Linked DNA regions of Homo sapiens: regions 1 and 3 are each linked to region 2. Evidence: fine-mapped expression QTL. A gene starts in region 2. Each other region holds a variant in brackets. All regions are shown on one strand. Distances are from middle to middle. Region 1 overlaps ZNF529 (zinc finger protein 529). Region 2 holds the start of ZNF529-AS1 (ZNF529 antisense RNA 1). Region 3 overlaps ZNF382 (zinc finger protein 382).

What was found. PIP is the estimated chance that this variant, and not a neighbour inherited with it, causes the effect. A credible set is the group of variants that fine-mapping cannot tell apart.
Region 1: its variant is the best candidate, but not a certain one, in a credible set for the expression of ZNF529-AS1 in subcutaneous fat (GTEx, PIP 0.65).
Region 3: its variant is the best candidate, but not a certain one, in a credible set for the expression of ZNF529-AS1 in blood mononuclear cells (TOPMed, PIP 0.62).

What each region holds. Positions count from the first base shown.
Region 1 is chr19:36,541,896-36,550,084 of GRCh38, forward strand. It overlaps ZNF529 (zinc finger protein 529), which reads right to left. Exons shown (of 5, transcript NM_020951.5): 5 at 1,718-6,427. The coding sequence ends at 4,971. Among named protein-coding and RNA genes, the nearest start is that of ZNF260, 18 kb to the left of the region's middle. The variant C/T (reference allele first, on the strand shown) is at 3,548.
Region 2 is chr19:36,569,658-36,577,846 of GRCh38, forward strand. It overlaps ZNF529-AS1 (ZNF529 antisense RNA 1), which reads left to right and starts at 3,692. Exons shown (of 5, transcript NR_173348.1): 1 at 3,692-3,898; 2 at 5,164-5,243; 3 at 7,484-7,580. ZNF529 (zinc finger protein 529) reads right to left here and starts at 3,635. Exons shown (of 5, transcript NM_020951.5): 1 at 3,483-3,635; 2 at 2,676-2,735. The coding sequence starts at 2,689. RefSeq lists an enhancer at 3,692-3,781.
Region 3 is chr19:36,630,418-36,638,606 of GRCh38, forward strand. It overlaps ZNF382 (zinc finger protein 382), which reads left to right. Exons shown (of 5, transcript NM_032825.5): 5 at 1-3,697. It overlaps ZNF461 (zinc finger protein 461), which reads right to left. Exons shown (of 6, transcript NM_153257.5): 6 at 6,201-8,189. Among named protein-coding and RNA genes, the nearest start is that of ZNF382, 29 kb to the left of the region's middle. The variant G/A (reference allele first, on the strand shown) is at 4,750.

The DNA of each region.
Region 1 (8,189 bases), 28 kb before region 2:
GTCAATAATAATATAAATGGGGAAGGACAGAGATGTATAGGACCAGAATTTTTGTAAATATTGAAGCTAAGATAGTATTAATTCAAAGTAGAATATGTGTTAACTCCAAGGCAAACACTGAGAAAATGAATACAAAATTTACAGAAAATAAAATAAAGGAACCAAAATGATACAGTAAAATAAATTCGGGCCAGGCATGGTGGCTTCCGCCTGTAAGCCCCTTGGGAGGCTGAGGCGGGCGGATCACTTGAGGTCAGGAGTTTGAGACCAGCCTGACCAACACAGAAAAACCCTGTCTCTACTAAAAATACAACATTAGCCGGCCGTGGTGGCACATGCCTGTAATCCCAGCTACTCAGGAGGCTGAGGCAGGAGAATTGCTTGAACCTGGGAGGTGGAGGTTGCTGCGAGCTGAGGTTGTGCCATTGCACTCCAGCCTGGGCAACAAGAGCGAACACCATCTCAAAAAAAAAAAAGAAAAAAGAAAAAATTCCATTAAACACAAAAGGTGGCAATATTGGGAGAATTAAGAAACAAAAAGAGACATACACAAAACAAATTAAAATATGGCAGAAGTCAGTCCTTTACAAGCAATTAATTTAAATGTATATTGATTAAACTCTCCAATTAAAAGGCAGAGATTGCCAGATGGATTAAAAAAAATGATCCAACTATATGCTGTCCATAAGAGACTCAGTATAAATCCCAAACTGTAAATAGTTTGAAAGTGAGAGGAGTGGACAAAGATTCCATGCAAATAGTTAAGCAAAAGAGAGGTAGGGTGGCTATGCTAGTATCAAACAAAATAGACTTTAAGTCAAAAATTTTTACAAGGGACAAAAAAGACACATTATATATTGATAAAACGGTCAATGCATCAAAAGATATAATAGTTATAAACACAAACACACCAAACAGCCCCAAAAGAAGTGAAGCAAACACTACAAAAAGTTGCAGGCAAAAAAAAAAAGTTCTACAACAGTTGGAGTCTTCAAAACTTCACATTCAATAATGGATGGAACATCTACACAGAAGATCAAGAAGGAAATAGAAAACTGGAAGATTATCAACTAACAACACCTAACATGTACACAACACTCTACCCCAAAACAGCAAAATACACATTTCCTCATTTTTCTCAGTATGGTTAAGAATTTCCCAAATCTTCACATTTTAGTTTCTTATTGCTTAAGAATTCCTCCTTCAATTCATCTCTCTCCTTTCCTGTTTTATATGCGCAATAAAGGGAACCCAAGCCACAAGTTCAATAATTAGAAATCTCCGCTACTATTCAGTTTTCATTGGTTGGAAGCGCTACCTTCCACAAAACACTAGAACATGATTCAGCCAAGTTCCTTGCTACAATAACCTGTTTCTCATTTCTGAGACTAAAACATTATGGCCTTAAATGTCCATATTTCTACCAACATTTTGTTCATGATTGTTTCTTTAACATGAATACCGTTCATGACAGGATTCTTTAAAATGGAAGCTTTCTCTCCAGTGGTTCTATTTTTTTTTTTTGTCCTCCCCAGAATCATTTTTACATCCATATTTCTAGCATCTACCCTCAGCATTCTTCTAGCCTATTTGCCCACCACCCAGTTCCAAAGCTTGGACTTGCACATTTTTAGTTTTTTGTTATAGCAGCACCCCACTTCTCAGTACCAACAACTGTCTTAGTTTGCTTAGGGTGTTGTAAGAAAATGCCATAGACTGTGAGGCTTAAATACAGATATTTATTTTCTCACTGTTCTAATTAAAATAGGGATTAGCAGGTTTAATTCCTGGTAAGGGCTCTCTTGGCTTCTCCTTGTGTCCTCATGTGGACTTTCCTTTGTGTGTGAGCATAGGAAGAGACGTCTCTCCTTCCTCTTCTCATAAGATCACCATTTGTATCAAATTAGAATCACATTCTTATGTCCTCATTGCCCTATGTCCAAATACAATCACATTGCAGGTTAAGGGGTGAATTCTGGCAAGTTGGAGTTGGGGTGGGGGGTGGCGCAGGGGTTATATAACTCCAGAAATCTCAGTCACAGACTCTTTACCTGTCCCTAACATACATATATTAGTTGCCATTAAATTGAATTCCTTCAAGGACATATAAAATTTAATGGTGCAGGACAGCAGAAAACAGGATGAGACTGCAATATCCTATCCTATTGAATATGAGAATAAAGCTCCTATGCAGGCTTAGAGAAAAGTCAGAAAGAATAAAGGGGCAAATGAAAATGGAAAGAATGGTGAAGTTTTATGTTTTTGAGTAAAAATAGTAAAAACCAAACAGTAATACCACCAATAATAATTATATTATGGTTTCGAGTAAGTGTGAAATGCCATAAGTTCATTACGAAGTTAAGTGAAAAATGTTAATATGATAAAAATATAGCTGTAACTACAAACAAGGAAAACATAATAAGGACACATTTTATTCATTAATTTATTATTTGTTAATGACTTCAAAAAGTAAAAGCCAAGACACAAGGATATTTTGTTTCTCTCACTAATTTTAATGTCTGTATACAAGGTTTAGATATTTAGTTTTAATTTGTTTAAGCTGGAAGGAAAAAAACACACACAAAGAAATATAGGACAAGTTCTCCTGGAGAACTATACCCAAAAGAGGAACATTAGCACTGATGGTAACTCAGGATAAAAAGGGAGAATGAGATCCAAGAGTAAATTAGCTGTGTTGTTACATAAATAGAATTTAGTTAGAAATAGAGCTACTACTCTATTTCAAAGATATGAAATAGCAAATATCCTGACAAAAAGGTTAACATACTCTTGTTCTTACTGTGTAGGACATGAAACAACAACCAATTACATATCTTTTAAAACTACTTGAATAAGCAATACTTACATAAAACATAGCTCAATATATCAGATGAGAAAATGGCTTAATACTGGTAATCATTCACACCGTTATAGAGTACATAAATTCTGGGAAAGACATCAGTTTCAAAAATTAAAATGTAATGAATGACAGTGACATAAATTTATCTGAAAATAATAGTAAAATTTTCTTATAAAAATCAAATAACCGGACAGGCGTGGTGGCTCATGCCTGTAATCCCAGCACTTTGGGAGGCCGAGGCAGGGGGATCACAAGGTCAGGAAATCGAGACTGTCTTGGCCAACGTGGTGAAACTCCATATCTACTAAAATACAATTAGCTGGGCATGGTGGCGCATGCCTGTAATCCCAGCTACTTGGCAGGCTGAGGCAGGGGAATCGCTTGAACCTGGGAGGTGGAGGTTGCAGTGATCTGAGATGACACCACTGCACTCCGGCCTGGTGACAGAGCAAGGCTCTATCTCAAAATAAATAAATAAATCCAATAACCAGGCTGGGTGCGGTGGCTCATGCCTGTAATCCCAGCACTTTGGGAGGCTGAGGCGGGTGGATCACCTGAGGTCGGGAGTTTGAGACCAGACTGACCAACACGGAGATATCCCGTCTCTACTAAAAATATAAAATTAGCCGGTCATGGTGGCGCATGCCTGTAATCCCAGCTAATCAGGAGGCTGAGCAGGAGAATAGC[C/T]TGAACCTGGGAGGCAGAGGTTGAGGTGAGCCAAGACTGCGCCACTGCACTCCAGCCTAGGCAACAAGAGCAAAACTCTGTCTAAAAAAAAAGAAAAAAAATCCAATAACCAGTGGCTCGTGATCTCATTGACTGCATAACCAAGTCAGCAGTCCTAAGAGAGAGATGATTTTGGAGTTAAATGAGATTAGTTAAACCAAAGAAGGTCTGCTGATTGTTGAAATGCCCAAACCTAGTAAGTCAACTCTGAGAGGGAATAAAAAGAAAAATAATGATAATAGATTAAAAAAACAATTGAAGCCATGTTAATATATAGTTGTAAATTCTCTTAATGTAAGTTCAGTGGTCATTTTTTCTCCCCTTTTAAAGGTGTTTGACAAATTTTAGAGTGATACTTTAAGAGAATGATAAATTTTAAGAGACTTACTGGGTGAGTAGTTTTATCAAATATTTAAAAGAGTTCTCTTCATTTGGATCCTGGTTGGTATAGCCTGCAGGTAAAAAGACTGCTTAAAGGAACTGGTTATATTCCAATATAACACACATACACACTATATATATATAGTGCCCAGTATATAGTGTATATACTATATATACATATATTGTGTGTGTGTGTGTGTATATATATATATATATATAGTGTGTTATGTAGTGCATGTGTGGGCATATATAGTATACATCACACACATATACATCACACACTATATACACACATATAGTATATGTGATATGTATAGTATACATCACACATACACTATATACACTATATGTGTATATACACTATATGTATATAGTGTGTGTGTGTGTGTGTGTGTGTTATGGTGGAATATAACCAGTTCCTATGTATGTGTTTTTTTGGGGGGAATATGTTGTATCAAAATAAAGTAGAAATTTAAAGAGAAGTCAACAATTGGATGAAAATGGAAAGGAGATCACACTTCTATCATTTAAAACAAAACAAAACAACATTACACAAAATGATGAGCTGTAAGACTGTAAAAATACATTGTATCTGACTAGGAGTGCTAACTCTGTGGAGGAAAATAAGTAAGTATAGATATCACAAGCAAAGAATTACAATGCAGAAAAGATATTGAAGTAATATTACAATTAAAAAACTGAATAGTCAAAAGAGCAATAATACAAACATCAAAAGCTATTGTAAACAAAACATGCCAGGATGAGAAACTCATGAAAAAAACTTTTTAACATAAAAAGGAGAAATATTTGGCAACATCTAACAAAGCTATAAGTATATATCAGCTATGACTAAGCAATTCTACGTCTACATACAGAATGACCATGAAGTCTAAAAACAGACTTTAAGAGAGGGAGATACTGAATTGCCTTGATTACCTATTAAATCCATCCACAGTATTTTCCTGTGAAAATCAGAAATAAAAAACCACTTTATACATTTATTTCAGTCAAATGATTTCTCACCAGTGTAAATTTTCGGTTGGCAAGTAAGATGCCCAACAACACTAAAGGAATTCCCACACTCCTTACATTCATAGGGTTTATCATCAGTATGAATGCGCTGATGTTTGGTAAAGGATGAACTATGTCTAAAGGCCTTCCCACATGCCTTGCATTCATAGGGTTTTTCTCCAGTATGAATTCTCTGATGTTCTGTAAGGGCTGAACTATGTCTAAAGGCCTTCCCACATACCTTACATTCATAAGGTTTCTCACCACTATGAATTCTTTGATGTTGAATAAGGGCTGACGTAAGTCTAAAGAACTTTCCACACTCCTTACATTCATAAGGTTTTTGACCACTGTGAATTCTTTCATGTCGAGTAAGTTCACTACCTACTCCAAATGCTTTCTCACATTCTTTACATTTATAGGGTTTTTCACCAGTATGAATCCTCTGATGTCTAGTCAGGGATGAACTATTTCTAAAGACCTTTCCACATGCTTTGCATTCATAGGGTTTCTTACCAGTATGAATTCTCTGATGACGAGCAAGTTCTCTACATACTCCAAAAGCCTTCCCACATTCCTTACATGCATAAGGTTTCTCACCAGTGTGAATTCTCTGATGTTCAATGAGCTGTGAACTAATTCTAAAAACCTTCTCACAGTGCATACATTTGTAGGGTTTCTCACCAGTATGAATTCTCTGATGTTCGGTAAGCTGTGAATGAAATCTGAAGTCCTTGCCACATTCCATACATTTGTAAGTTTTCTCATCAGTATGGATTTTCTGATGTCGAGTAAGTTGTGCATGCACTCTAAAGGATTTCCCACAGAATGAGCATTCAAAGTGTTTCTCACCATCATGAACTCTTTGAAGTGGAGTAACTTTTCCAACTCTTTCAAAGGTCCTTCTGTATTCCTTACATTTATAGAACTTCTCATTATGAATTTTCTGGTATACATTAAAGTCTTTATAAAAACTACATGTATTCCCATATTCCATATATTTACAAGGTTTCACACCAGTATGAATATTCAGTTGTAACATACTGGAGTTATCTATCCCAAAGGTTTTCCAACATTGATTACATTCATAGTTTTTTCCACCAGTATGTATTTTCTGATATTCATCAAACTCTAAGTCACAACTGAAGACCTTCTCATATTCCTTGTATTCATAGGGCTTCTCACTGTCATGAGTTCTCCGAGGTAAAGTAAGAGATTCATGAGTTTTGTAACTGGGCACATTTTCAGAGATGATTTTCATTTGACTGAAATATCCCACTTCAGGTCCTTGTAAGTCAATCTTGCTTTTGCTTTGCCAGTCATTTCTGAAAATGGAACCTTCAAGGCCACATAACTTGCTACTTTCCATTACCTCCCACTGAGAACCAGTGTTTTGAATAATATCTTTTCCTACAGATAAATGCTTAGTCTCATTCCTGGACTCCAAATCTGAAAGAAAGGAAAAAATAATTTTCATGTACTACAAAAATAAAACAGTTATAGAAAGAAGAGACAATTTAAGAATAATTCACCATATACATGAATTGGTTAAAATACTGTCATGAAAGATAAAGAGAGCTCACAGAGTAACAGCAGAACATAAAGATTATGAGGATTGTGATAAAGGTAACAGATTAAGTCAGTGGATCTGAAATTTGTGTGTTGGTCATCACCTGGTAAGCTCATTGGTTAAACAGAATCAAAATCTGTAGATGTAGAACTAGTCATTAGCATCTTGTAGAGGTAATGCTAACGCAGATCAAAATTTGATAATCCATATATACTAACACTTTTGTGGTTTTCCTCCCCAAAAATAAATTTTACCGAGGATAATAACAAGGTGCAGTTTGTTAAGACCTCATTTTGCCTGGGCGTGTTGGCTCATGCCTGTAATCCTAGCACTCTGGGAGGGCAAGGTGGGTGGGTTACCTGAGCTCAGAACTTTGTGACCAGTGAAACCCTGCCTCTACTAAAATACAAACAGCTGGGCGTGATGGCATGCGCCTGTAGTCCCAGCTACTTGGGAGGCTGAGGCACAAGAATTGCTTGAACCCAGGAGGTGGAGGCTGCAGGGAGCTGAGATTGCACCACTGCACTCTAGCCTGGGCAGCAGAGCGAGAGTCCGTCTCAAAAAAAACCACCTCATTTTAACGCATTCTCCTAATCATTTTTCATCTCCTAGATCAAAACAAATTTCCTATCATTTAGAGCTATCCACAGGACATTTCATTTCACATCAATGGTCTCTTTGTATGCCAGCTTCTTTTCTTTGTTAAAGTCTCAAGATACCCTCAGAAAGGGCATATTAGTTGACCCTAAATAACTTCATTTCTGTTTCTAATCCCATATCTAGTGCCTTACCCTCATATATATTTTTTTCAGTTGTGTATTCAATACTTTTCTCTTACACCATTTACTTCCTTATTCCTTAAATTCCACAAGGACAAATGTAATAAATTTTCATGTGCCAATGTATAACAAGACCTAAGGACATAGTATATGATAATTAATTAGAGGAAAAGTAAATCACTGTATGAATGAATCTAAATAAAAATAAAAGTATATATACAAAGATAAGTCACTAGAAAACAATAATTATCAAAATAATTATGTAACTATAAGAATAATGCCAGTTACCAATGCCTCCCAACCCTCACATTGTATTAGTGATTACATATGTATATTTATAATACAGTAAGATACATAAATATGGCGAACATTCATATGTATTTATTTTCCAACTGCTTCTCCACCTACACATATTGTCCACCACTATTGCTTATTCCCTCTTATGCAGAGCCATGATTGACATGTGGAATGAAGAAATACAATCGGGATGTGTTATTTACTTCTCTTCAACAGCATATTTACATTTACTCCGCCGTCCTCCTAAAACCTTCCTCTATTTTTTCTTTTATCTTCTTTTACAGATATTCCTTTCCATTTTCTTATAGCAAAAGTCAACTAATGCTGTACTTTCCAAAAATATATTTCAGATATTAAAATAATATCTGAATATAATTATAACTACTGTTAGACTTACACAGTTCTGAGCAAGGGCTTATGTGTGAAAAGGAGAATATGCTAACAGAATCATATGAAGAAGGTGGTCTAGGTAGACAAGATTGGAAGGCACTTTGTAGCAAAGGATTTTATGGAGATCATCTGGAGGCCAACAGTGAGAGAAGGGAATGCCTGAGGAAAACTCAGA
Region 2 (8,189 bases):
TCAGGAGGCTGAGGCATGAGAATTGCTTGAGCCTGGGAGGCACAGAGGTTGCAGTGAGTCAAGATCACACAACTGCACTCCAGCCTGGGTGACAGGGCAAGACTCTTGTTGCAAAACAAAAAGAAAAAGAAAAAAATGAAGAATTGGCTCAGAGTGCTCAAACCCTGCACATTCCAAAGAAGAAATTGTCCTTGACCAGCTCCTGGGAGATAATCTCTGAGCAGTTAGAGTATCCTGCCTGATTAACAGAGTCTATGTATATCTGAGGTCTTAGCCATGCCAGATGGCTTTTGTTAACAATGTGGTTTATGGTAAATACCTGTATCCATCTGACTTCTGGGTAGGCTTGACTAAGTAGGTAAGGTCAGTGCACAGAACCTTCATGCCCACATGACTGATCGTCAATAAAAACCCCGGACATGGGCCAGGGCAGTAGCTCACACCTGTAATTCCAACACTTTGGGAGGCAGAGGCAGGTGGATCACTTAAGCCCAGGAGTTCAAGATCAGCTTGGGCAACATGGCAAAACCCCATCTATACAAATAATACAAAAATTAGCCGGGTGTTGTGGTGTGTGCCTGTAGTCCTAGCTACTTGGGAGACTGAGGTGGGAGGATCCCTTGAGGCTGGGAAGTAGAGGCTGCATTGAGCTGTGACCCCACCACTGCATTTCAGCCTGGGTGAGAGAGCAAGACCCTATCTCAAAAAAAAAAAAAAAAAAAAAGAAAAGAAAAAAGAAAAAAGAAAACAAAGCAAAACAAAAAACCCTGGAAACCATGGCTTAGGAGAGCTTCCCTGGTTGGCCACGCTTCATGTTTGTATTCGCACATTGTTGCTGGGAGAATTAGGTGCTGCCTGTGCAACTGCACTGGAAGCTTGCACCTGGTTTCTCCCGGTATTTGCCCTATGCAACTTTTCCCTTTGCTGATTTTAATGTGTACCTTTTCATTGTAATGAAGAATAACTATGAGCATAACAGCTTTTCTGAGTTCTGTGAGTCCTTCTCGCAAATCATTGAACCTAAGACAGTCAAATTGCCTTAATAGAACATTTGCAAATCTGGCTTTTAAAAAATTCATTTCAAGTGCCCATCAAAATTAACTTTATATTTTCATTGCTCTTGATTTACAGAAAATGTATGGGGAATACTAAGAATCTTCACAAACCAGCTTTTTTTCTTCCCTTGCAGATAAGGACTTAAAGTGCCAGGCCTTTATTAAATTCTCTAGGTTTATGTCCATATTAATGTATCCAGGCCTCATAAAGACCCTAAAGCACTGATATAATTATTGTTTACATTCTACAACAAGAAACTGTAAAGCGGAAAAATGAGTAACTATTAACCCCTTTGAAATGCAGTGTGAACATATAACTGAATTTTAAATTTTTTTCACTTTTCCTAAGCTAATTAACACAGGATTACCTTTAATTTTAATTAACTTACATTTAAATACAAAAGCAATATAAATGTTTTTCTATTAAACACAACTTTATTGTTTTGGTAGGACTATAATTCACCCTAAACACTGAAAATTTAGCATCCAAATTGAGACATGCAATAACAATAAAACATATACCAGATTTTGAAAACTTGGTATAAAGATATGAGTGTAAAGTATTTCAGTGTATTCATATCATTACATGTTGAAATAATATTTTGGATATATTGGTTTAAATAAAATACATTACCAAAATTAACTTCAGCTGTTTCTTTTTCTTTTTAAAATGTGTTTAAAGCCGGGCGCAGTGGCTCACGCCTGTAATCCCAGCACTTTGGGAGGATGAGGTGGGTGGATCACCTGAGGTCAGGAGTTCGATACCAGCCCAGCCAACATGATGAAACCCCTTCTCTACTAAAAATTCAAAAATTAGCCGGGCATGGTGGCGGGCGCCTGTAATCCCAGCTACTTGGGAGGCTGAGGCAGGAGACTCACTTGAACCTGGGAGGCAGAGGTTGCAGTGAACTGAGATCGCACCATTGCGCTCCAGCCTGGGCAATAACAGTGAAACTCTGTCTCAAAAAAAAAAAAAAAAGTGTCTAATGGAAATTTTTAAATTACCTAAGTGGCTTTATATTATATTTGCATTAGACTGTGCTGCTTTAGACTCAGACACCACTGTATCAGGCTGCCTCTCACAATCTACACCAATGTCACACTGCCAAATCTCAAAGAAGATTTGGTTGTCACCACTTAAATCCCCTCATGAATGTTCTGGAAAAACTCCCTGCCCTTGTTGACATAGCCTCTCTGCATAAAACTCCTATCATATTCCCACTCCTAAATGTCTCCAAAGCCAACTTTGTCACTTACTGATTAATACCTACCATCTCCTATCTTGCTTTGTTTGCAAATCAAGTCTGTAAATAAGATCAAAGGTATCTAGTGTGCCATTCTACTTAATCACTCGTCTCCTCCTTAACAAATTACATTCTAAAAAAAAGTTTTAACTTCTCCTCCAGGAGTTGTATTTCTATACCATAAAAATCCTTTGGAAAAAAAGAAGCACATGGGAGAATTGAATGATTTACCTAATGCATATGTGAATATTCAATGAAAGGGAAATGGGCATTTGGAAAGGCAATGGAGGACAAGGGGACCCATCTCTACGGTCCTGTTGTTAATTGGGAAGAGAAAACCAAGGGACCAGGTAAATGAACAAAAAAAAAAACTAACCTTGAGTTGGCCATTAGTACCAATGCTGTCTTCCACTTCAGGGGGCCTTCACTTGCAGAACTACATAACCAAGAGGGAGAAAGGACTCATGACATCCTGGACTGGTTAAATAAGAACACAGTGTTCACCACCAGAAAAGCCCATCACACACAACAAACACACCCAGATCGAAGAGGGAAACTAGAATACTGTCGACTCCTCCCCACATCCGAGAAAAAGGTACGACCAATGCCTAGCAGTTTCTAGGGAACACAGCTCAGGAAATACTGTAGTTCTTTAATGTATAAATGGCCTCCAAACTCATGCAAGGGGAGTTATCCCAGGAATGAATACTACACCTATGCCCTCCCCTTCACGTCTTCCCAGGAAACTTCATTTATCTATCTTATCTATCTATCTATCTATCTATCTATTATCTATCATTTATCTATCTTCTATATATCATCTATGTAATCTATCTATATGCGTGTGTGTGTGTGTATAAGACCTCACGAAGAGATTCCATCACAGACATCACAGAGTCGGAAAAATGACGCTTTACCCAAAACAAACTCCTACAGGCTCACGGAAAAAAACGAACAAACAAACAAACAAAAAAAAACAAAAAAACACTTCTACCCCGTTCACACTTATAGTTGGTCACAACAGTGCTGTCACACGATCACGTCACCGTAGACCAGGGTCACACGATAGACCCCGCCCCTACTCACCGTCCTGAGTCCGATCAAACAGCACCCACGGCACACACTAGGGTCTCCGTCTCTCACACACACACACCACAATGACGTCGTAAACAATAGCACTAACCACCATCGTCCGCAGCTCCCGCGTACAGAGGCCTCAGGCTCCCGGCTCCACGTGGACCGACCTCGCCCGGCAGCGCGGGGCCACCTCACCGCGAGCTCCTCCCGCAGCCCGGCCCGGGTCACCTCGACTCGCCAGGCTTAACTCAATAACCACAACACCGGAAAAGGAAGCAAAGGTCGAAGTTCATCCGCGGCCCTGAGGCCTGTGGGAAACGTAGTCCAACAACGAAAGAGCCCTGAAGCTCAAGCGGAGCCCGCTGGCCGCAGGGGCCGCACCACGCCCCAGACCCTGGAGTTTCCGGGTGCGCAGACCCTTGCCATCAGCAGAGGCTGCCGCTGCGCGTCCCCTAGGCGCGGAAGAGGCGGCTGGTGGTCCCTGACGGCAAGGTGAAGTCGAGGCAGTAATCGGGAACCCAGGTTGGGAGGACAGAATGGGGAACAGGAAGCTGGGGCGAGGGTGGTCTTGGGGGAGGTGGGGGGCCGCGGAATTCTAGGTGGCCCCTGCCTCACCTCTGGAAAGAACCGGAAGCCCGGGCCGGGGAGGGTGAAGGGAGTCGCGGACCCGGCTGCTCAGCCGAGGAGGAAACCCGGACCCCAGGCTGAGGGAGGCCGAAGAAGGAACTGGAGGGCCGGGCTGGGAAGGCCTGAAGCGGGTACAGCCTTTAGGCTGGGGAGGGTCGAGGGGAGAACTCGGAGCCTGAGTCGGGCGAGGTTTTGCTCCACTCTGGCTTCTAAGTGTGGGGGCCTCAGGATGTGACCCGTGGTCGTAAACCTGAGGGTGACTTGGAGTTTTTGTCCGTTTTGCACCATGAGAAAGGCCCCAGATGGAATCTGGCAGGTAGCGGCGGTTCAGTGTGTGTGTGTCTGCCTTAGGGCGTGTTTTACACTGTTGACGAAAAGACTCAGACTCTAAAGTATTTGAAGAGACTTATTCTGAGCTAAATATGAGTGACCAATGGCCGGTGGCCCAGCCCTCAGGAGATCTTGAGAACCTGTGCCCAGGGTGGACGGGATATATGTGGTTTTATACCTTTTAGGGAAACATGAGACACCAATCAAATACATGTAAAATGTACATTGATTCCCTCCGGAAAGGCGGGACAGCTGGAAGGTGGCTGGCCTTCCAGGTCATAGGTAGATTCAAAGATTATTTGATTGGCAATGGGTTGAAAGAGTTATTGACGTAAGACTTAGGAATGTCTCCAGGTAGCACGCTTCACAGAGAATAGATTGTAAATGTTTCTTTTCAGACTTGGGGTCTTTTCTATCAGTAATTCCAAAATGGAGGAGGGTATAATGAAGCATGTCCGACCCGCCCACCCCCGCCTTTCCATCATGGCTTTACTAGTTTTTCAGGTTAGGAATGCCCTGGCCAAGAGGAGGGGTCCATTCAAGATGGTCTGGGTGTGCTTAGGATTTTATTTTTGGTTTACAACACCAGCACCACCGGAGTTTGCTGGTGTCCTTTCCAGTCAGTTTCAAAGCAGAGACAGCCATAGTTCTGATTTGTGTCACTGTAACTGTCAGTTCCGGAATTCCATATTTCTCCTTTAGTTTACCCTAATGTGTGTGAGATTTCATGTGTAGTTCATTTTTCTTTTTCTGAACAGCACTCCATTGTGCAAATATACCACAATTTGTGTAGTCATTTTTCTGTTGTTGAACATTTGGCATATTTACAGGTTTTATACATTACGAATAAAGCTGGCACGTTTCCATTTCTCCTGGGCAAATATTTAGAAGAAAAGTTGCTGGGTAATTGGTAAGTTTACATTTAACTTTCCAAGAAGCTGATAAGCCTTTTAGAATGATTAGTTGTGATTTGTGTGTGTGAGATTGTGTAACTGGAGTAAGTAGTTTCTGAGTTTGCTTTGCTATGTTTGTATGGAATTATAAGATGGGCTCAACAGGGTTGTGAATGTCATGTAGGATCCATAGGATTGTGGCTTTGTGGAGTAGGTAAGATCACAGGAAACTGAATGTGTCTGTGCTAATTGTTATTTATCATGGTTTTGTGTGTACATTCCATGATAACTGAAAATGGATCACTATGTAAGTGATGTTAATGACTGAAGAACTCTGTGTGTCTGGTGTATTTCATTTTGCTTGCAGAATTATGACAGTTTCTAATAACTAAAATATCACAAGCATTGGAAACTAGGAGGTAAAATTATAATTTCTAGATGACAGGGTTGCATTACCTGGAAACATCATACAAACTAAATCCAATATGTTGAAATGAGGACTCCATATGTAGCACAGAAGTAAAATACTTTCATCCCTACCACTTTGAATAGTTATATAGATTTGAGGTCCCCTCCCACCCATCCCCCCGCCTCCTGCTTGCCCCTGGATGAAGTTGAGGGTGATTTAATGCCCTCCTAAATCACTTTAAGCCAAGTAAAAGTACTTGAAATACTAAAAATCACAAAGTCAGCTTTGTAGTAATTAAAATAGTCATTTTCTAATTAAAATATTTACTGTAAAAATCAAATTTCAAACTTCATTTAAAAGAAAAATTTCTTTCAACTGTCTAGAGCCTACAGTGTAATTACTTTCTTCTCTACTTCCCCAACCGGTATTACTAAATAGGTACTATCTCGCATAATGATTAGGATTTAATAGTAAATGCTTATTAGTTAACCAGGCAGGTTTAACCACGTTATTATAGAAACTCTAAGAGGTTTCACATGTGTTTTTTTTTTGTTTTGTTTTGTTTGTTTGTTTTGAGATGGAGTCTCGCTCTGTCACCCAGGTGGGAGTGCAATGGCGTCGTCTTGGCTCCCTGCGACCTCTGCCTCCCGGGTTCAAGCAGTTATCCTGCCTCAACCTCCCAAGTAGCTGGGATTACAGGCACCCGCCACCACACCCGGCTAATTTTTGTATTTTTAGTAGAGATGGGGTTTCACCATGTTGGCCAGGCTGGTCTCCAACTGCTGACCTCTTGATCCACCCACCTCCGCCTCCCAAAGTGCTGGGATTACAGGCGTGAGCCACTGCACCCGGCCTCACGTGACTTCTTTTGCCTCCCTTCTCTCTGTTGTTCACCTTTTGAAAAAAAGAATCCAAAAGAGCAAGGGTCCTTTCCTGCAAATTATAAAAGCTATGGCTGAGAATGAATGTTTCTTCTCTCCTTTCTGAAATATCTTTCCCCCAGGATAACTGAGCATTTGCCTACCATGAAACTTCCATGAGACAGGATTCTCCATTTTCTTTTATTCTAGTCAGATAACGATGTTGCCTTCTCCAAGTTTCCCTTCTAATTGTAACTACTGTTCACTTAATAATTGGATATTTTGGCCGGGCGCGGTGGCTCACGCCTGTAATCCCAACACTTTGGGAGGCTGAGGCAGGTGGATCACGAGGTCAGGAGTTCAAGACCAGCCTGGCCAACATAGTGAAACCCTGTCTCTACTAAAAATACAAAAATTATCCAGGCGTAGTGGCCCGCACCTGTAGTCCCAGCTACTCGGGAGGCTGAGGCAGGAGAATTGCTTGAACCCAGGAAGCGGCGTTTGCAGTGAGCCAAGATCGTGCCATTGTACTCCATCCTGGGCTACAAAGCAAGACTCCGTCTCAAAATAATAATAATAATAATAATAATAATTGGCTATATCACTCAGCACTCCTTTTCACTCCTATAAACAGAAACATATTCCCTTGAATTAAATAAGCATATGTTCCTTTCATAAACCTTTTTTATACAGATAGTGATTTGATGTCTATGTAGTGAGTACTCAGGAGAGCCCATACAAGGGAAAGCCTCATCATGTCCACATATCTCAGTTTACTAGTGAGTGATTCTACTTTTTCTTTTTTCTTTTTTTTTTTTTTTTGAGACAGGGTCTTTGTCACCCAGGCTGGGGGGCAGTGGCACAATCTTGGCTCACTGCAGCCTCGACCTCTTAGGCTCAAGTGACTCTCCCATTTCAGTCTCCTGAGTAGCTGGGACCACAGGCACCCACTACTATACCTGGCTAATTTTTGTATTTTGTATTTTAGGTGGAGACAAGGTTTCGCCACATTGACTGGGCTGGTCTGGAACTCCTGAGCTCAAGCAACCGGCCCTCCTTGACCTCCCAAAGTGCTAGGATTACAGGTGTGAACCACCGTGCCCGGCCCTACTTTCTATCGAAGTAGAATAGGTAGATCACATTATTATTAACAGTATATGGGAAGAGGGAGGTCCTCCCATGTTACATTGTTCTCCCTTCACCTTCTGGGTCATGTTGCACCACTGTTTCCCTTCTAGTCATATCCCAGGGGGCCTTGTCCCATTTATACAGCTCTATTCTAGTGGTCACCAGAGGAATGGGAGTAATCTGATTGAAAGATAAGACAGAAGATTGTACTCTCTTTTTTTTTTTTTTGAGACAGAGTCACCCAGGCTGGAATGCAGTGGCATTGTCATGGCTCACCGCAGTCTCAAACTCCTGGGCCCAAGTGATCCTCCCACTCAGCCTCCTGAGTAGCTGGGACTAGAGGCACATGCAACCACATGCAGCTATTTTTTTTTAAATTTTCTGTAGAGACAGGGTCTCACTGTGTTGCTCAGTTTGTCTCAAACTCCTGGGCTCAAGTGATCCTCCTGCCTTGGCCTCACAAAGTACTAGGATTACAGGCATGAGTCACCACACTCAGCTGAACTCTACTCTTTATGTTCAGGAAAGCACTGGAGAAGAGAGAGGACAAGAGAAACAGGTCCGTA
Region 3 (8,189 bases), 61 kb after region 2:
GGCGCAATTTCGGCTCATTGCAACCTCTACCTCAAGCAATTCTCCTGCCTCAGCCTCCCAAGTAGCTGGGATTACAGGCGCCCACCTGTATTTTTAGTAGAGACGGGGTTTCATCATGTTGGCCAGGCTGGTCTCCAAAGCCTGACCTCAGGCGATCCACCCGCCTCAGCCTCCCAAAGTGCTGAGATTACAGGTGTGAGCCACCGCACCCAGCCGAAATTGTGTTTTCTAAAGCTATTTACATATAAGCTGCCGCTCCTTAGGAAAATTTGGTCCTGTGGTTTATATTTTGGCATGAAACAGCATTGGGCTGTATTCCAGAATCCTGCTTGAAGATTTCTTTTGAAGAAATCAGAAATTTTCTTTGCATTTTTTTTATTTTTTTGAGACAGGTTCTCAGTCTGTCACCTAGGCTGGAGTAGAGTGGTGCCATTATAGCTCACTGCAGACTTGAATTCCTGGACTCAAGCAATTCTCCTGCCTCAGCCTCCCAAGTAGCTAGGACTACAGGCAGGCGCCATTCCTCTCAGCTAATGTTTTTATTTTTTATACATATGGGGTCTCGTTGTGTTGCCCAGGCTGGTATTGAACTCCTGGCCTCAAGCAATCTTCCCTCTTCGGCCTCCTAAAATGCTGGGGTTACAGGTGTGAGCCACTTCACTCACTTTAGAGATTTTCACTTTATGAATTGATAAATACAGCATTGCATCACTTAATAGGGATACATTCTGAGAAATGCATCATGAGGCAGTGTCATGATCGTGCAAGCATCACAGAGTGCTGATACAAACCGAGATGGTACAGCCTACTAAACACCTAGGCTATATGGTAGAGCCTGTTGCTCCTAGGCTACAAATCTGTACTGCATGTTACTGTGCTGGATACTATAGGCAATTGTAACACAATGGTAATTATTTGTATATGTAAACCTATCTAAACACAGAAAAGGTACAGTAAAAATGTGGTACTATAATCTTTTTTTTTTTTTGAGACAGAGTCTCACTCTGTCGCCCAGGCTGGTGTGCAGTGGTGTGATCTCGGCTCATTGCAACCTCCGCCTCCTGGGTTCAAGTGATTCTCCTGCCTCAGCCTCATGAGTAGCTGGGACTACAGGTGCACACCACCAAACCCGGCTAATTTTTGTATTTTTAGTAGAGACGGGGTTTCACCATGTTGGCCAGGATGGTCTCAATCTCCTGACCTCGTGATCCACCCGCCTCGGCCTCTCAAAGTGCTGGGATTACAGGTGTGAGCCACCATGCCTGGCTGGTACTATAATCTTATGAGACCACCATTATATATGCAGTCCATCATGGACCAAAATGTCATGTGGTGCATGAGTATTTTTCATCTAACTTATATATTGCTCAATGAAGTTTGGGCAACTCTAAGGAGCAAACATGTTTATAGAATCTAAGTCAACTTGACCTAAACATATACGACAAAATAGGAGTGATTTTACAAATTCATATTTTGTAGACCTAACTGCAAGGTCATAAGGCATATGCAAAATGAGTTCATCAGTTCAGAGGACTAACAGGACTCCACAGAGCATACCCAGGAAATGTTTTTACTTAGAAGCAAAGGATGTGGCTCAGCAAAAGAAAGGGAAGGTAAGCATTAGGGCTCAGAATCATCTAGCTGCACATTCCTCAGTGGTTTTATTCACACACAGACCGCACACTGTCTCTGAACTGAAGCACTAAGACCTGTATCAAACTTGATTTGGGGAGAGCTGACAGCAGAACTTCTCTACATGGGTTTTTTTGTTGTCATTGTTTTGTTTTTTGAGACAGAGTCTTGCTCTGTCACCCAGGCTGGAGTGCAATGGTGCAATCTCAGCCCACTGCAACCTCCGCCTCCCAGGTTCAAGCAAGTCTCCTGCCACAGCCTCCCTAAGTATCTGGGATTACAGGCATGTGCCACCACAACCAGCTAGTTTTTGTGTTTTTAGTAGAGACAGGGTTTCTCCATGTTGGCCAGGCTGGTCTCGAAGTCCTGACCTCAGGCAATCCTCCGCCCACCTCGGTTTCCCAAAGTGCTGGGATTATAGGCATGAGCCACCGTGCCCAGCCACTGCATGGGTATTTATGCTTCTCTGTTCACTGGTTACATAGTCAAGCCAGGCTATCTAACTGGTTATGTAAGTTTAAAAAAGTTAAAAAGCCATCATAAACAAATTGGCTCTGGGAGTCTCCCAGGGAATATCAGACTTTAACTAGTACCTTGTATAGCTCACTGGCCTTATCCCAACCAAGAGTCAGAGCCAGACATCTGGGCATCGTGGAGATAATTTTAGAGCTTTGCAGTCTGACTGTAAATCAGCTCCATCTTATAAACATGGTTCCTATAACTGCTGTGTATTTCCTGATAATGTATGTGAACAAGCATATCTCCTCACCCTCTGTGTCCCCAGTATCAGATAGTGCACAGTACATCTCAAATGTGATCATTTCTTGTCAGCTAATGCTTGAATTTCTCCACTCAGTTTCTGGTCTAGCAATAGAGCCAGGCTTGCCATGTCCTGCTTCACAAGTAATGTGCAACAGCAAAAGCACAGGCTCCAACACTAGTCTACAACATGCACCTGGGATGTTCTAGATATTTATCAGTTTATAATCAGGCTTTTTTTTTTTTTTTGAGACAGTGTCTCGCTCTGTCGCCCAGGCTGGAGGCAGTGGCTCGATCTTGGCTCACTGTAAGCTCCGCCTCCTGGGTTCACACCATTGTCCTGCCTCAGCCTCCTGAGTAGCTGGGACTACAGGCACCTGCCACCATGCCCAGCTAATTTTTTGTATTTTTAGTAGAGACGGGGTTTTACTGTGTTAGCCAGGGTGGTGTCGATCTCCTGACCTCATGATCCGCCCACCTCGACCTCCCAAAGTGCTGGGATTACAGGCGTGAGCCACCGCACCCGGCCTATAATCGGACTTTTCAAAACCCTAGATATGTGACAATACCAAGTGCTGACAAGAATGTGGAACAACTGGAACTCTTTCTTTTTTAACTTTTGTTTTAGATTCAGGAGTACAGGTGTGGATTTGTTACTGGAACTTTCATACATTGCTAATAGGAAAGGCAAAATGGTAAAGCCGGTCTGGAAAACAATATGCCAGTCTCAAAAAGTTACACATCCAATATGACCCAGCAATCCCACTTATAAGTACTTATCCTAGAGAAATGAAAAATTATGTGCACACAGAAACCTGTACATGAGTGTTTGTAAGTATTATTTATAATTAAAAAAAAAACTAGAGACAAGCAAATGTTCTTCAGTGTGTAAATGGATACACTGTGGTACATTCCCAAGATGGAATTCTACTCAACGATAACAATAATGAGCTACTGAAACATGCAGCTACATAGATGAACCTCAAATGCATTACGCTAAAGGAAAGAACCCAGTCCCAAAAAGTTACATACTGTATGATTCCATTTATATGACATGCTGGAAAAGGTGAAAATATAACAACAGAAAACAGATCAAATGTTGCTGAGTGTCTGGGGTGGGGTGGGGTCTGAATACAGAGGGGTTGCACGAGGCAATTCTTTGAGGTGTTGGAATTGTTTTGTATCCTGCTTGTGGTCATAGATAAAAAATCTATGCATGTGTAAAAAATAGAAGTATACATACAAAAAAGTGAATTGTACTGTCTGTAATTTTTTTAAATAAATAAAAATCCCTAGCTCTGCTTCATCAGCAGCAGTACCTCCTGATTTGTGTCTTCAAAGATATCTTTAGACTGGCTTCTGAATTACATATCCAGTAGTAGTCAGCCTACACACACACAGGCCTTGCCACATGGTCTCATCATTGTTCCGCAGGTCAACTCACAACACAAGTAACACATTACAGTTAGCCCGTATTTGTAAACTCCATCCAGATGATCAGCCCCCCATTGGAGTGGCAGGCTTCATGTCTGGGGGTGGCACACCTATGGAAGATGGAACTCAGTGTGTGTGCTCTGTTGGGCGTCTCCATCACATCTAACAGTGGCTGACAAACCAGCCAATACATAGTCATCAGGGCATATGCAATCATTGGGAATAATACTAAGTGGGGCCAATTCTGCTATCCCTTGGTTCTCAGTGGTATTCTTAATTCCAACACAGTGCCATTTAAAGGTCCCTGATTGTATATGTGCAGTGGCACAATCTCGGCTCACTGCAGCCTCCGCCTCCCAGGTTCAACCAATTCGTCAGCCTCAGCCTCCCAAGTAGCTGGGATTACAGGCATGTACCACCATACCCGGCTAATTTTTGTATTTTTAGTAGAAATGGGGTTTCACCATGTTGGCCAGGCTGGTCTTGAACTCCTGACCTCAAGTGATCCCACGCCTCAGCCTGCCAAAGTGCTGGGATTACAGTGTATGTTTTTATTGCTGCATAATGATTGTACATATTTATGGGATATGTGTGATATTTTGATACATGCATACAATATGTAATAAATCAGGGTAATTAGGATATCCACCTCAAACATTTATCATTTCCTTGTGTTAGAAACATTTCAAATATTCTACCTATTTTGAAATATACAATAAATTATTAACTATAGTCATCCTACTATCCTATCAAACACTAGAACTTATTCCTTCTATCTAACCATATATATATTTTTTTGAGACAGTCTCGCTCTGTTGTCAGACTGGAGTGCAGTGGTGCGATCTTGGCTCACGGCAACATTTGCTTCCTGGGTTTAAGCAATTCTCCTGCTTCAGCCTCCTGAGTAGCTGGGACTACAGGCGT[G/A]AGCCACCACGCCCAGCTTATTTTTGTATTTTTGGTAGAGATGGGATTTCACCATGTTGGCCAGGATGGTCTCGACTCTTGACCTCGTCGTGATCCACCCACCTCGGCCTCCCAAAGTGCTGGGATTACAGGCATAAGCCACCGCACTCGGCCCTATCTAAGCATATTTTTATATCCATTAACCAACCTCTCTTCACCACTAGCCACTCACTTCCGAACCTCTGGTAACCATCATTCTACTCTGACCTCCATGAGATCAACTCTTTTAGCTCCCACTTATGCATGAGAACATGCCAAGTTTGTCTTTCTGTTCCTCGCTTATTTCCCTTAACATAATTAACCTCCACTTCCACCCATGTTGCTGCAAATGGTAGGATTTCATTCTGTTTATGGCTGAATAGTATTCCATTGTGTATAAATCCATTATGCATTGATGGAGACTTAGGTTGATTCCATATTTTGGCTGTTGTTAATAGTGCTGCAGTAAACTTGGGTGTGCAGATACCTCTTAGATATACTGATTTCCTTCCTTTTGGATATGTACCCAGTAGTGAGATTTCTGGATTATTTGGTTGATCTATGTTTAGTTTCTTGAGGAAACTCTATAATTTTTTCTATAGTGGTTATACTAATTTACATTCCCACCAGCAGTGTACTAAAGTGTTCCCCTCTCTCTGCCCTCACCAAGATCTCTTATTGTTTGTCTTTTTGATAGTGGTCATTTTTTTATTTTTATTCATTTTTTTGAGACAAAGTCTCGCTCTGTTGCCCAGGCTGGAGTGCAATGGCGTGATCTCGGCTCACTGCAACCTCTGCCTCCTGGGTTCAAGCGATTCTCCTGCCTCAGCCTCCTGAGTAGCTGGGATTACAGGTGCGTGCCACGACGCCAGGCCAATTTTTGTATTTTTAGTAGAGAGGGGTTTCACTATGTTGGCCAGGCTGGTCTCCAACTCCTGACCTCAGGTGATCCACCTGCCCCGGCCTCCCAAAGTGCTGGGATTACAGGCATGGGCCACCACACCCGGCCTTACTTTTTGAGACAGAGTTTCGCCCTTTCACCCAGGCTGGAGTGAAATGGCGCGATCTCGGCTCACTGCAACCTCCGCCCTCTGGGTTCAAGTGATTTTCCTGCGTCAGCCTCCTGAGTAGCTGGGATTATAGGGGCCTGCCACCACACCTGGATAATTTTTGTATTTTTAGTAGAGACGGAGTTTCACCATGTTGGTGAAATTTGCATGAGATTTAGAAGGTGGAAGTGAAGCACTGCCACTATTCTTGGAAGGTTTTCATGGATGAGCAAATGGCTACATGTGGCATGTCCTTCTCATGGCCAGTGGCAAAAGCCAAGTCATAATATGAAAGCACATGTAAAGTTCTGTTGGGGACCAGCCTCAACACCACCTGTAGGGTACCTGAAGTCCGGTGGCGACAAAGGAATGAGAAGAGACAGGTTAAGAGTTCATAAAGGTGGGAGCCAAGGGGCCAGAGCAAATCAAAAGCTGCAAAGGCGCCAAGCTCTGGTCTCCACACTATTTATTGAGTACAATCACTTAGATCTAAGAAGCAGATGTTCAGGGGTGAAACAGTGAAAGGGGGGCAATGGCAGTTTAGGTACATTTTCTTTGTGCTGAAGCAGCATAAACTTAACTACTGATTTATTCTTTTACTTATCAGAGAGCAGCTGTGGGGAGTGGGCCTAACTAGAAGCCAGCATATCTGGCCACATTCCAATGCTTCAAAGGAGTGTCTTTCTCCTTGAGCACAGTGTTTATAGATAAGAGAGCAGGTCACACTCTGGTCATAGGAACGTGATGGCAATTAGGAGGCTTTCCTCCTCAGAGGCCTCTTGTGGCTTTCCACAACTTATTGTCCCATATTTTTATGGCCAGTTTATGCAGGCACTCCACAAGCCCTTTTCCCAACAGTTCTACCAAAAGTAACTTCCACTCACATTCTATTCGCTAAATCCAATAAATTGCATGTTAGAATGCATGTTAACATTATCTATTGGTTGTGTTTTGACAATTTTCTTTTTTTTTTTTCTTTTTGAGACAGAGTCTCACTGTGTTGCCCACGCTGGAGTGCAGTGGCGCGATCTCAGCTTACTGCAAGATCCATCTCCCAGGTTCACGCCATTCTTCTGCCTCAGCCTCCCGAGTAGCTGGGACTACAGGCACCCACCACCACGCCCAGCTAATTTTTGTATTTTTTTTTTAGTAGAGACGGGGTTTCACCATGTTAGCCAGGATGGTCTCGATCTCCTGACCTCGTGATCCGCCCGCCTCGGCCTCCCAAAGTGCTGGGATTACAGGCATGAGCCACCAAGCCTGGCCAATTTTGATAATTTTCATCCACATCAAATAAGAATAAATATAGCTTATTGGCCGGGCATAGTGGCTGCGCATGCCTGTAGTCCCAGCTACTCAGGAGGCTGAGGCAGGAGAATTTTTAACCTGGGTGGCGGAGGTTGCAGTGAGCCAAGATTGCACCACTGGACTCCAGCCTGGGTGTGTCTCAAAAAAAAAAAAAATGAAGTAGGCCAAATGTGGACTAATAATGAGAATGTGTAATAAATCACATATTATGAATAACCTACTTTTGTCCAAAGAATTTATGAAATTTACATGAAATATTCCCGTTAGAATAAAAGGAAACTGATAGCAGTTGTTGCATCTGTGGAAAGTGAGTGGCTACAGAACTGGATGTTAGGGGAGAATTAATTTTCACATTTTTGGTAATTTTTGAATTTTTATAATGTGTGCTTTTATTAAACAAAAAATTTAGAAGATTTTAAAAAATAAATGTAATGTCAAAATATATACGCCAGATACTCTTTAATCCCACTGTTGGGAATCTGCACAATAGAAACAAAAGAAGGTAAAATTAGAGTTCTAGGTGAACATTAGAAACAACTTCAATGTCTGTAGTAGGTAATGGCCCAAAATACGGACATACATTCCATTCTAGAAATATTCTGAACCTTACAAAGAATGGGTTACATCTTTACGTACTGACCTGGAAAAGTATTCATGATTATTATGAAAAGGACAAGACGCTGTCAAATGTCTGTATGGGGGTAAAAGCTCCTCCAAACACATGCAAAAAATGCTTTCTGTGTACAGGTTGTTTGAGCATAAAGGAAGAAGAAATACACATACTGGTTATCTCAGAGATTTGAGGGAAGGGAGGAAATTGTTTTCATTTTATTTCACTGTTTCAGTGAAATATTTCACTGGTTTCAGTGAAACATGTAATTTTAGAAAATTTATTCTCAATAAAAAAATTTATTCTCAATAATGGTTAATACAATAACTCAGAAACAGCATTAAAATGAGACCAAAATTTACACTTTAGTTATCCACTTTCTCACTTAAAAACATTTGATTTTCAAGGATTATTTAAATAAATAAATACTAATGAAACTGGTGGCTTACCAACTT